Linked DNA regions of Homo sapiens. The main gene of each other region encodes a partner of the protein of the gene in region 2 in a complex. Each region holds a gene or a part of one and is shown on either strand. Other genes may lie near its edges. The genes, in order: SLC3A1 and SLC7A9. A codon is read from its position in the direction of its gene.

Region 1 (3,912 bases), on a different chromosome or scaffold from region 2:
GTTTTACTCTTATTGCCCAGGCTGGAGTGCAATGGCATGATCTTGGCTTACTGCAACCTCCACCTCCCAGGTGCAAGTGATTCTCCTGCCTCAGCCTCCCGAGTAGCTAGGATTACAGGCACCCGCCACCACGCCCAGCTAATTTTTTTGTGTTTTTAGTAGACACAGGGTTTCACCATGTTGGCCAGGCTGGTCTCAAACTCCTGACCTCTGATGATGTGCCTGCCTTGGCCTCCCAAACTATTGGGATTACAGGCATGAGCCACCGCACCAAGCCTGTTCTTTTCTTTCTAAACCTAGAATCCTAGGAGAAATAATCTCCTAGAATCAAAATTCAGTAACATCCTGACACTAAAACTCGTTGACATCCATGAAGACTTTCTTTAGCAATTCTCATCACTCCATTTAGAATCTAAAGTTTATGTCTGCAAATTAGGTGGGGTATTTTCTTCAAAAGAACTTCCCCCTTGTATTGGAGTCCCTATAACATCTTGCCTTATTATTGGTGTGCACTCTCAATTGCTGAAAGCAAAACCCTGGGGGAAGACACATTCACCTGAAATGACTCCGATCAATGCTGGCTTTAGCTATTTGAGGCAGCATATTTATGGATAAGTGCATGGTCTCTGGAGCCCAACTGCTTCAGTTCAAATCCCATAGCTGCCACTCCTACCTGTGGACATTACTTACATGCTCAGAGCCTCAGTTTCCTTGTCTATAAAATGGAGACAGAGTAATCGGAGTACCTACTTTAAGGAGATGAAATTTCTTTAATTCCTTCCTATTGATTCTGTTGAGTGATCTATGTAAACTTAATGATGGGTAATTTTATTGAGTGTTTACTATGATCCAGGCACTACTTTATATACATTATCTAATTTAATCTCACAACAGCCTTATAGAGGTTATTGCTATCACTTTTTTATTGATGAGACAACTGAGACTTATGTTAATTAACTGGCCCTAGGTCACACAGCTACAGAGCAGGACTCCTTCAGACCTACCTGATTCCAAAGCTGTGTTCCTGATACTTTAGCTGAAACATATGGATTTATATACTGTACTAGGAAACTATAGATCCAATAACAATGATAAAAATAATACTGCAGAGAAGGAGCTGGTATTTTTATTTTTTTCTTGAGATGGAGTATTGCTCTGTTGCCCAGACTGGAGCACAGTGGCATGATCTCAGCTCACTGCAACCTCCACCTCCCCGGTTCAAGCAATTCTCCTGCCTCAGCCTCCCGAGTAGCTGGTATTACAGGCATGTGCCACCTTGCCCATTTTTGTAGTTCTAGTAGAGGAGGGGTTTCGCCATGTTGCCCAGGCTGGTCTCGAACACCGTCAGGTGATCCACCAGCCTCGACCTCACACAGTGCTGGGATTACAGGCATGAGCTACCGCACCCAGGTGGAGCTGGTTTTGTTTTTTTGGTTCTTTTTTTTTTTTTTTTTTGTGATGGAGTCTCGCTCTGTCGCCCAGGCTGGAGTGCAGTGGTGCAATCTTGACTCGCTGCAACCTCTGCTTCCCGGGTTCAAGTGATTCTCCTGCCTCAGCCTCCCAAGTAGCTGGGATTACAGGCACCCACCACCACACCCAGCTAATTTTTGTATTTTTAGTAGAGATGGGGTTTCACCATGTTGGCCAGGCTGGTCTCAAACTCCTGACCTCGTGATCCGCCTGCCTTGGCCTCCTACAGTGCTGGGTTTACAGGCGTGAGCCACTGTGCCCGGCCTGGAACTGGTTTTTGAAAAAGAAAAAATAATAGCTCATGGCTAACATTTAGCTAATATAATCTCTTTTTCATTAACCTAATTTTCACAAAACTCCTGTGAAGTACGTAGTGTGATCTGCATCATTTTACAAAAGAGGAAACTGAAAGTCAGCAAAATAAGCAAACAGGAAAGGAATATGGCAGGCCCTGGTACAACCAAACTGTAATCAATTAGAGTTATGCAGGCTTGTTACATTATTACTTGAACCTCCAAATACACTTGGTTGTGAGGGATACACTGCAGATCACACACTAAGCCTGGGAAGAAATGAGAGCATATGCCGTGGTCAACCTGTATCTGCCGGGCTCCGTGCTGTATTGGTCCATGGTCTGCCGGAAGCTGCGGACAATGTCGTGCATTCCCACCTGCGTGGTGGTGAAGTCATGGTACAGCTCCGAGTATTGTGTGACCGTGTCCTTTGAAAACCAGGACGACATGGTTACCCTCATTTCATACATTGCATGCCCACAGCTCGCTCTATATGAATGTAGACAACCTCTTCAAAGGGCTCAAGCCAAGCGAGACGCACACTCAAACATGGTTTTGTGGATGGAGAAGAATGCTTCATTTGATGCTCAAGTTGTTAACTTTATAAATCTACTAAGCAATATTTCTCTAATAAACTGTCACCCATTTTAGCAAATAAATTTTACCAAGCAAAACACTGATTACAAAGTTCTCAACACGTAATTGTCAAAATGTTTCAGACCCTTTTAAAAACAAAAAAAAAGATCTTAGTGGTTATAGAGCTCATTATTACATGTATACTTTATCTGCTCACAAAACTATTAACATCATGCACTTAAATTTGTTTCTTTACCATCACTATCCTTTCTCCTAACTGTTATACTTTCTCGGGGTTTCAGTAAATTTTTCCTAGTTTCTGTATCTTTGTAGGATTTCTATGTCAGTGTCTCATTTCTATGTCTTTCTAGGATGACAATAATCTCCTAGAATCAAAACAAAAAATTACATCTCATCCAAGCCAAGGCCTCCTCACTTGAGCCTATGTCAGATGATAAAATTGCAGGAGTAAATGTCCTCTATTTTGTGGCCCTTGGTAGAGCCCACACTGTCCATGTCTTCAGAACCCTTGTCACTGAAGGACTCCTCAAGGGATCCCTCGCTCTGGAGGGAACCAGTGGAAAAAAACATCGAGTGCATATGCATTTCAAACTCTTGCACATTTCCTAAAGAAATAAATCAGGGTACTTGCTAGACACAGGACAAAACTCATCTTTGTAACTGGTATCTCAGGCTGAGAAAGAAAACACTCTGATGACATTTTCAGAAAAGGCAAAAGAAAAACGTTTAAAATAAAACTTTACCGGGATTTGGGTCTTATTTACTTGGATCTCATCTCTCAGGTGCTTTGCTTCTAGGAGGAATTTAACAGCATCCAAACTAAAACCATCAACACCCTTTGTGAGCCAGAACCGTAAAATTTCCTAAAGATGAAGAAGCAAAATGCTTGGTTACATTAACTACGTTATTATCACAACGTTTAATCAAAGTTTTGACTGTTAACAACTTGGCATCATAAAACAGATATCTACATACAGAACAAGCACAGTATTCACAGTCTATTTTTATCTATTTAGCATAACTGTCTTACTAAAATGCACTCTAACTGCATTTAGCGACTCCCACACCTCCTTCATATGTGAATTCAGAATTACAATTAGTTACATTTGTAATGGATGTTATAAGGATGTTTTCAAAGTTTAGAGAGTCTACTAAAAATGAAAGAATGAAACCATAAGAAAAGATAGGACTCAGAATAAACTAGGAAAGTTTCTCATCTCCCTCATGCCCAACTCCTTAACTGTCACTGCAAACTCAAAGAAAATAACACATTGTTCAATAGTTAAATATTTCACTCCTTACTAGGAAGGCAGATGAGAGGTGAAGTGCTTAGATATTAAAGGATCTCCTGCTAGGAGTAATATGGAAGGAACACACAGAAAAAAAATAGAATCAACCATCAACCAAGTAAATAACTAAGAATAGTGACGATCCTGTGGTAAAACTCAGATACTAGTGTTGTCTTGAATACACTCAGATAATAAAAGATGAAATGGGCTGGGCACAGTGGCTCATGCCTGTAATCCCAGCACTCTGGGAGGCCGAGGCAGGC
Region 2 (3,912 bases):
CCTGTAATCCCAGCTACTCAGGAGGCTGAGACAGGAGAATCACTTGAACCCAGGAGGCAGAGGTTGCAGTGAGCTGAGATCGTGCCACTGCACTCCAGCCTGGGCGACAGAGTGAGGCTCCATCTAAAAAAAAAAAAATTGACAGCAGGGAGGTGAAACTTCAGTCACATGGCAGAAGCACTGGATACACAATGAACCAATGGTCTTCAAGAACTGAGGAAAATTTTGCTTTTTAAATGAAATCCGTATTATTTTCCATGAGGAAGAGCTTATGAGAATTACTTGAATACTTTCTGTGTATTCAAGGGAGGGAGAGGGTGGGACTGCGGTGAAAAACACAACTTTAAGAAACAGGCTTAAGAAATGCTCACCGTGGACCCAAAATGAACTGAAGTGGAGGTTTCTGACTTAACAAAGGACCCTCACATCCCGATGTTCCAGACTCGGCACTTGGAAGAGGCCCAGGAAGACCAGAGGGCTGGTCCCGGACATTCATGGAACATGCAAGTTCAGTGTGTTCCGTGAGGAGGCGCCTGTTGCTCGCCCTGCGTCGCAGGTTCAGACCCTGATCCTGGCAGTGCTGCCTGAGCCCATGTGGGTAGTGGGTGAGGTTGCAGGGCTGTCTGGCCCCAGCGGGGGACCACTGCCCCACCCTGATGTCCTCACGTGGTCTCCTGTCAGCCTGCCAGGAGCACTTTTGACCCAGGGGGTATTCTGTGGTGTTTTGCAAACATGGATGTGCCAGGTACTATGATGAGTGCTGCAACATTAGGAGGAGTGACCCCAGCAAGCCGGTGGGCAGGTTCTGTCTAGGGTGGCAGGACCTGCCACTAGCCTCTCTGCTCAGGGCTCTGGGCATGGCAGGCAGGTAAACAGGTGGGCCCTCCCAAGATGGGAGGTGACGAACTTCTAAATCAGGACCGTGCCTCTGGGACAACAAGGGTCCCTGTGCTCTGCAGACGGCTTTCAGAGAAACCTGTGCCTCTCTCAGGTCTGCTTGCCCCAAACTGCTCCCAAACTGACCCCCAGAGACTGGCCCAGCTCCTTCCATCCCTGACCTTTGCTTCCATCTGATATCTGGGATGCAGTTAAGTTTGGCCCAAGGCAAAGCTACCAGAGTTTTGGCTGAAGGTAACAGCTACGATGCTTCAGATGCAGTGCTTATGCTGTGCCAGGCTGTCTCATAAGGTCTCATAAGGTGCTTCCTTCCCTATCTGAAAGGGCTTCGTGCTGACCCCTGAGGCTGCCGCCTGAGCCTAGGTCCAATCGCAGTGCGGGAGAACCTCTGCTCCCTCCCAGAGAGATCCAGACCCTGGCAGCCCTGGATGCGGACCGGAGCTTCCTGGCCTTGTGTTGCCTGTCCCCCTCCGTTTCCCCGAAGGGGAAGGTTTTGTGTCCCTTGTGATGAGCCAGGACATGGCTACGTGAACAGCACCACAGCCAAACCTGATGGGCATTTGGCCGCAGCTGCAGGGAGGACACGAGGCCCTGCATTGCCTCAGGCCTGCTTGTGATTCCAAGTGGTGAAGCCCCATCACTGGTAAAGAGGAGTGGGACGGGCTCAGCCGCTCTCACCTGCTCAGCCAGAGGCAGGCCCTTGGCTTGGGGGAAATTCCTGGGCGGGGAGGAAACTGACCAACAGCTGAGTTACGCACACACAGCGGTTCCTGTTTGAGCTGCCTGACTTGGGTTTTAAATATAGCCTATTAAGGCAATTAGCGAATTGGTTCCAAAGTTTATCTCCTCTGATTCCCAAAGATAAAAGAAGGCATAATTTATTTTATCTTTAGGTAAAAAGTGTAGACGATTTGGGACCATCTGGTTTTAAAAAAATAATCTGACCTAGACACAAATGAACAAAACAAAAACGGTTTTGGAGAGAAATTGGTGTTCCTGACCCTCCCCTTTTTTGTGTGGCGTATCTAAGCTTCATTGCAAAAAAAAAAAAAAAGGTGTTTAATAATTACCCTTATTGACCTCTGTACCTTCTGGACTTCCTTTGCTCCTGGGCACAAGACATGGCCATTTCTAGGGTTGGACCGTGCAGGCACGGGCGGTCAGCTGGGCCGCAGCTCCTCCGGCTCTGCAGGGTCACGGAGGAAGGTAAGTAAGGTCAGTAGGTGATAGAAAGGCTCATGGCTCTCCTGGCCGGGGCCTGGACAGATAATTTATTTAGAGAGAGGGTACAGGAGTGCATGGTTTTCTCCTAGTTCAGTCTGGAACTGGGTTTCCTCGGCAATGTTTTCTTTCCTTTCATCACTCAATGAAAAAGTACCTGGCCAGGCGTGGTGGCTCACCCCTGAAATCCCAGCCCTTTGGGAGGCCGAGGTGGAAGGACTGCTTGAGGCCAGCCGGGGCAAATAGCAACACTCCCGTCTTTATAAAAAATATTGTAAAAATTTAAAAAGTACAAAGAAAAAGTACCTGTATTGTGGATCTGTGATGTATGGGAGTGCCTTTAATCTTGGGAAGGAATTATAAGACAGACACTCCTTACCTGGACTTGATTCTGATAAATACATTCCACAATATTTTCATTTTTTAATTTTTTATATATATATTTTTTGAAACAGAATCTCGCTCTGTGGCCCAGGCTGGAGTGCAGTGGCATGATCTTGGCTCACTGCAGCCTCTGCCTCCAGGGTTCAAGTGCTTCTCTTGCCTCAGCCTCCCGAGTAGCTGGGATTAACAGGCACCCACCACCACACCCAGCTAATTTTTTTTTTTTTTTTTTTGCATTTTTAGTAGAGACGGGGTTCGCCATGTTAGCCAGGCTGGTCTCAAACTCCTGGGCTCAAGTGATCCACCCACCTCGGCCTCCGAAAGTGCTGGGATTACAGACCTGAGCCACTGTGCCCAGCCCGGGATGTTGTTAAATATTTCTTTTTACTTTTGAAAAAAAATGAAGTTGACCATAGAGGTAGAATGACTTTCAAGGCACAGGCACGTGGGCCAGGAGGCTCCCGGGGCCTGTCTGGGAGAGAGCTAAGCAAGCAGCTGAGCTTTGGAGAGCAGCGGGGAGCTGTGTTCCCCTGCCTGGACAATGTTAATGACTGACTTTGACTCTGGGGCCCAGCGCATGAGCCCTGAGGGACTGGCAGCGGCCCCCACCTGCAGCAATAACCAACACTGTGCTTTTGCAGCCAGCTCCCCTAGTCCAGGCCGAGCTTGCACTTGCGTCTTGTCTGCTGCTGCTGAACCAAGATTTAGCTGTGCGCCCTCCTTGCAGTCTCCTGGAACCAGCAGGAGGAAACATGGGGGATACTGGCCTGAGAAAGCGGAGAGAGGATGAGAAGTCGATCCAGAGCCAAGAGCCTAAGACCACCAGTCTCCAAAAGGAGGTAAGGCGGTCTCTGGTGGGGCAGGCCCTTTGCAGGTTAGGCAAGGGCGTCTGAACGAGGGGCGCAGGCAGTGAAATCCGGGCCGATCCCTAGTGACACGGCAGAAGATGTACTCTTTGATTTGTGAAGTACATCTTTAAAGGGATAATCTCTGGACTTACTTCTCTTTCCCTCTCGCCAGGGAATTCTGCATCTTCTTTTTTTTTTTTTTTTTTTTGAGATGGAGTGTTGCTCTGTCACCCAGGCTAGAGTGCAGTGCTGCCATCTCGGCTCAATGCAACCTTCACCTCCCCGGTTCAAGGGATTCTTCTGACTCAGCCTCCCGAGTAGCTGGGATTACAAGCACCCGCCACCATACCCGGCTAATTTTTGTATTTTTAGTAGAGACAGGGTTTCACCATGTTGGCCAGGCTGGTCTCAGACTCTTGGCCTCAGGTGATCCTCCCAAAGTGCTGGGATTACAGGCGTGTGCCACTGCACTCGGCTGCATATTCTTTTTTTTTTTTTTTTTTTTTTTTGAGACAGAGTCTTGCTCTGTCACCCAGGCTGGAGTGCAGTGGTATGATCTCAG

What was found.
Region 1: the proteins of SLC7A9 (region 2) and SLC3A1 are in contact, whole or in part, in a cryo-EM structure (PDB 6LID), measured with the Homo sapiens proteins. Residues at the interface, in NP_001119807.1 of Homo sapiens: Cys137, Phe140, Tyr141, Val142, Gly143, Cys144, Pro147, Ile149, Val150, Cys153, Leu154, Ala156, Ala157, Leu160, Phe161, Thr164, Leu168, Thr279, Thr281, Asp295, Arg296, Tyr299, Tyr343, Val346, Arg347, Lys467, Thr470, Met471, His472, Gln474; in NP_000332.2 of Homo sapiens: Pro64, Tyr65, Ala66, Gly67, Met68, Pro69, Lys70, Leu73, Phe74, Phe76, Ser77, Tyr82, Pro85, Arg86, Phe90, Thr93, Val97, Leu100, Ile101, Ala103, Thr104, Ile107, Ile108, Ser111, Cys114, His201, Asp202, Thr373 (codon at 2,086), Glu374 (codon at 2,083), Pro375 (codon at 2,080).

What each region holds. Positions count from the first base shown.
Region 1 is NC_000002.12:44,299,282-44,303,193, reverse strand, and holds part of SLC3A1 (amino acid transporter heavy chain SLC3A1), read right to left. Parts: intron 3,224-3,912; coding exon 3,104-3,223; intron 2,192-3,103; coding exon 2,067-2,191; intron 1-2,066. UniProt on the Homo sapiens protein: Acts as a chaperone that facilitates biogenesis and trafficking of functional transporter heteromers to the plasma membrane.
Region 2 is NC_000019.10:32,867,877-32,871,788, reverse strand, and holds the start of SLC7A9 (B(0,+)-type amino acid transporter 1), read left to right. Parts: upstream 1-2,021; 5' UTR 2,022-2,103; exon of another isoform or gene 2,104-2,112; intron 2,113-3,143; 5' UTR 3,144-3,254; coding exon 3,255-3,341; intron 3,342-3,912. UniProt on the Homo sapiens protein: Associates with SLC3A1 to form a functional transporter complex that mediates the electrogenic exchange between cationic amino acids and neutral amino acids, with a stoichiometry of 1:1.